Linked DNA regions of Homo sapiens: region 2 is linked to region 1. The links come from fine-mapping of genetic effects on gene expression. A gene starts in region 1. The other region holds a variant in brackets. All regions are shown on one strand. Distances are from middle to middle. Region 1 holds the start of FAT4 (FAT atypical cadherin 4). Region 2 overlaps FAT4 (FAT atypical cadherin 4).

What was found. PIP is the estimated chance that this variant, and not a neighbour inherited with it, causes the effect.
Region 2: its variant is fine-mapped to the expression of FAT4 in blood mononuclear cells (TOPMed, PIP above 0.99).

Annotation. Positions count from the first base shown.
Region 1 is chr4:125,314,009-125,316,508 of GRCh38, forward strand. FAT4 (FAT atypical cadherin 4) reads left to right here and starts at 947. Exons shown (of 18, transcript NM_001291303.3): 1 at 947-1,969; 2 at 2,392-2,500. The coding sequence starts at 2,404.
Region 2 is chr4:125,386,154-125,388,653 of GRCh38, forward strand. The region is part of intron 2 of FAT4 (FAT atypical cadherin 4); the gene reads left to right. Among named protein-coding and RNA genes, the nearest start is that of FAT4, 72 kb to the left of the region's middle. The variant G/A (reference allele first, on the strand shown) is at 1,527.

The DNA of each region.
Region 1 (2,500 bases):
AATGTGGAGGTGGAAATACTCCATCAGGGATCAAAATTCCAAACTAACTTTGCAACAGGAAAAGATCTCCCTCTTTTCAAAGGGCTGCCATTATTATTGTTGTTGAAACCCTAAGGTTTGGGCTACTGGCACCTGGAATCCAGTTGGGAAAGAAAACAAAACAAACACTGAGTTCCCCTGGCCTTTCCTATAGTAGGAAGTCCAAAGTGCCCTTGCTACGGAGGCCTCCTGCCCCCTAGTCACCTGGAAGGTGGGGGAGAGGGGCAAGTGAGTGAAGATTTAGAGTTTAGCTCGCCCTAGACAGCAGGGAGCCCACTGTGTAGAAAGAGGAGCAAAGGGGAGGATTTGATTTGGATTCTGTGGGATCACACTGTATGGCAGCTCTATCCCTTGCATAAAGAGAGAAGGGGCAGGAAATGGTTAAAGCAAATCTGCACTGTGCATTCCCAGACAGGCTTTGCTTAATCCTTCCTCCCCGCTTTAACAGACCCTCACCCCCCGCCTTTCTTTTATTTCTCTCGACCCCCTTACCCCTGAGTTATTACTAGCATAACAACCTAACGGTCTTCCCCCAGACCCTGCCACTAAAGTTATTTATCTGCAAACCTGACCCCACCCCCATCTATTCTGCGGCAGCCTTTTGCTGTTATTGCTCTGACGCCGGCCAAGATTTGGCCGAAAAGGAAAAAAAAAAAAAAAAAAGAAAAGAAAAAAAATCACCCCCCTTTTTAGCGCCTCCGCCTCGCTGTGCTCCCACACCAGACCGCCTACAGCCCTCCGGGAGGCTGAAGTGATTAGCATCCCGAGAAGCCAGTCGGAGGCCGGGCAAGGCGGAGGGCGCTCGCGGTAGGAGTGCCGGTCGGGGCTGCTTCAGCTCCGGCCCAATGGGGCTGGGGCGAGGGAGGGGCAGAAGGTGACAGGACTGGGAGCTAGGGGGAGTCCAGGCGAACTAAAGTGCGGGGATCAATGAGTGTCGAGCAAAGTTTCTGAGTGCTGCTCCAGCTCGCGGTCTTCCCTCCCCCTCTGTTTGTGTTTCGGCGACGCGCTGTGTGTGTGTGTGTGCGTGTGTATGTGTGTGTGTGTGCATGCCTGTGCGGCGGGGAAGGGGCGGGGAGAGTGTGAGGGACCAGGCGGGAGGTGGAGAAGGGCTCGCGGAGCCCTAGCTCCACCGCAGTCCAACCTTCGGCCCCGGCCGGCGAGAGGGAGAGCGCTGACAGGCGCCGTCCGGAGCTGCGGAGGGCGTCACTACAGCCCAGCGCCGACTTCGCCGCCTCCGCTGCCAACTGTGAAGGAGAGAGAGGCATCAACCACCCCCCGCCCCAAACAAAAAGCCTTGTGGATTACAAAGTGAAACTGACACGGGACAATAAAAGCAGAGATAGCGAGGGCAGGGGCGAGGCGCGCTAGAGTGGGCTTCTGACTGGGGCCGCCGGAGAACGACCCCCCCTGGCATGGTGAGGGGAGGGCGACTCGGGGACCGCACGCTGTTTCTGCCCGACCCCTGCGAGGCCGAGAAGAAAGGGGAAACTGCGTTCGATTTGGATGTACAAATAATGGGTCGGCAGGCGCCCCGGCAGAGGTGAAAAATGCCGAGGAGCCCTGGCTGTTGTTTGTGCCGGACCACGGGCTTGAAGCCGCAACAGGGGCGGCGGCGGCGGCGGCTGCAGGAGGGGAAGGGGCAGAGTTGAGCGCTCCCGGGTACGGGAGCCAGAGCGCGAACGCTAGCGCTTGGAACGCAGTTCCCGAACTGCCTGCGCGCAGACGCCGCCGCCTGGGCCTCAGCGGCCACTGCCGGCGCCCTGTTGGAGGGGCGTTGCAGCCTGGTTTTTGAGGAGTGGGGACTCCAGGAATTCCATCGCCTCCAGCTTTTGGGAAAGAAATTCGATTCTCCCGGTTCCCCACCACCCCTTCCCCGGTGCGCAGTTGTGCTTGGACGTTTGTTCCTCCCTCTTCACGTTCTTCGCTGCGGGTAAGTTCTAAAGTTTCTGAAGACCGTTCTTTGCAATGATTCCTCATATACCTTAGATACAGGCAACTTCTCCCAACTCTCATCCACCCGGGTGAAAACGCTCAGACTATCTGGATTCAAAAACAAAGTAAAAGGGGGCATATATAAGAGGCTTGAGAAACTTTTCTGGGAACTCAGCTCACAGGAGTGTCCCGCGGAATGCCCTGCCGCTTTTCGCCACAGCATCTCTCTTGCACTCCGCGTTCAACTGGCTACCTAGAGTCTTTTGCTGATGCTACTTGCTTTTGCCGGACTGGAGGTTCTTTGAAATAGCAGAGGTCTCAGACCAAGCCGTCAGCTGAATCTTTGCTGGCGCTCCTTAATCCCTGTAAATATCATTGCGTTTGCTTCACCCCTTCCTTCTCTTTATCACATCGTTTTAGGGAGCCAGGACCATGGACTTAGCACCAGACAGGGCTACTGGCCGCCCGTGGCTCCCGTTGCACACTCTATCAGTATCTCAGCTCCTTCGAGTGTTTTGGCTACTGTCAT
Region 2 (2,500 bases), 72 kb after region 1:
TTTTACATCATTGAATAAATGTACATTAAATGCCTTCTGTACCCTAGGCGTTATATTGAAACTGATCTAAATGTTTCACTGTTTGAAACTTAGAAAAGAAGCAGGCTTTCTGAGTTTTGTTTTGTTTTGTTTTGATTTTTTTGAGGCGGATTCTCACTCTGTTGCCCAGGCTTGAGTGCAGTGGCACCATCTCGGCTTACTGCAACCTCCACCTCTGGGGTTCAAGTGATTCTCCTGCCTCAGCCTCCTGAGTAGCTGGGATTACAGGTGCACACCTGGCTAATTTTTGTATTTTTAGTAGAGACAGGGTTTCATCATGTTGGCCTGGCTGGTCTCAAACTCCTGACCTCAAGTAATCCACCTACCTTGGCCTCCCAAAGTGCTGGGATTATAGGTGTGAGCCACTGCACCTGGCCCTGAGTTTAGAAAAATAGGATGTCTAAATAGAATTAAAGAACAATGCATTTCCAAAAAATTGATTTTGATAAGTTGAATTTCTTTAGAACATATACTTTACAATTTATATCACATAAAATTTTATTCATTACTGTTTATTAGTGAGCTAAAGCTGTTTCATATAAATTAAATTTGTTATTGTTTTGAAGTAAAAATACAACACAAGACTCTAGAAAGAGACTTTAATTTTATAGTTTAAGATAGCTGTTTAAAAGATATAAGGACATATAACTATTATAGACCAGTGGTCCCCAAACTTTTTGGTACCAGGGACCAGTTTGGTGAAAGACATTTTTCCACATACTGGGTGGGAGGGTGGTTTTGGGATGAAAGTGTTCCACCTCAGGCCATCAGGCATTAGATTCTCATAAAGAGCGTGCAACCTAGATCCTTCGCATGCACCATTCACAATAGGGTCCACCCTTCTTTGAGAATCTAATGCCGCAGCTGATCTGACAGGAGGCAGAGCTCAGGCAGTAACGCTCACTTGCCCGCCCCTCACCTGCTGCTATGGGCCGGGTTCCTAACAGGCCACAAACCAGTACCGGTCTGTGCCCAGGGGTTGGAGACCCCTGTTATAGACTAATAACCAACTGAAATAGAATAGCATAGCTATGAGTCAAAGGTTTGTGTCTTTTGCATCAAAGAATAGAAATGTCTGCAAAGGTGAAGACTACTATGCAAATGTGAAATGAGGAAGAGTGATTATTTTGACATTGCAGTCATTCCATAAAAGAACTATAGCCAAGTCTCGTGTAGGTTCTAGAAAACCACTAAAGATGGCGACCATGTTATCATGGGGGCTGCATTGTTTCTTATTGTACTTGTGCCATTATTTTGTTCTTGCAATGTTCTTTGTGTTTTTGTTTTGTTTTTGTTTGTTTAAATTTTCTATTCTTAAAAAAACACAATCTGATGAACTCTCCCCAATCTATGATTCGTTCCTCTTGGATCATGTATTCCCACCACTCCTCTAATCTTTGGATTGTTGGAGGGGGAGGAAGAACTTGATATGTATTATTTTGAGTTGCCCCTGACAGATAGCAGTATGGCATGGTAAGTGAGAATGT[G/A]TAGCTATATAGGGTAGGAAAAGGTATTAATAGATTCAGAGAAATAAAACTCCCAGTACAAGCCATACAACAGATCAATATACATTAGCTTTTTACTCTTCTTTGTGCTGCTCATGTTAGACCAGTAATTATTTAGAACATGGAAACAAAGTAAAATAACCAGTTAATGAATTCATTGTTTTGGCTTTTGTATCTGTTAGCTACTGCCAGAATAATGTTGCATAATAAAGAGCCACAAAAATCTCAAAGGCCTACAAAAATTCACTTTTATCCTCACACATTTCTGGATAACTGCAGTTGGGCTTCTCTAGGCTAGACTCAACTAGGAAGCTTGGCTTCAGTCTAAAAACCTTCCAGCTGAGATTCCTCTACTCAGTATCTCTAGTCTTTCTGGTAGTAGTGGGCTAGCAGAAACATACTGTTCTAGTGACCATGGCAGAGGTAGAAAAGAATAAGTGTATTTTAAGCCCCTTCTTGTGCTATTTTTATAGATAGCCCATTGTCCAATCCAAATATTATGAAAGAGCCCAAAAAAGGCAAGGAGAAAAATCTCACCTTTAGTGGGAGGGACTGCAAAGTTGTTTATGGGGAGGGGTAACGGGACCAATAATTCAGTCTACCGTAGTTTGTACCTTTAATAGAAATCAAACCACTTCTTTATTTTTCAGTAGTTTGAATAGAAGCCTTCTTTATTTCATAGTATCCAGTACACATTAGGCAAAAAAAGAGAAGAAAAAATTTAGTGGCATTTTTTGTTTGTTTGTTTTATACTAAAATTTCCCTTTGATATGTGTCTACCACATTCAGATTAACATCTATTGAAAAATATACTACAGGACGCATTTGTAGGGTGTTTGTTTTGAAGAATAGTATAAAAATTTCCATAAGTTTCTTATGCAACCACACATATTTTAACTTGATGTTTTATTCTGCATTTACTTTTGAGCATCCTTAAGAATTTGTTAAAATGCAGA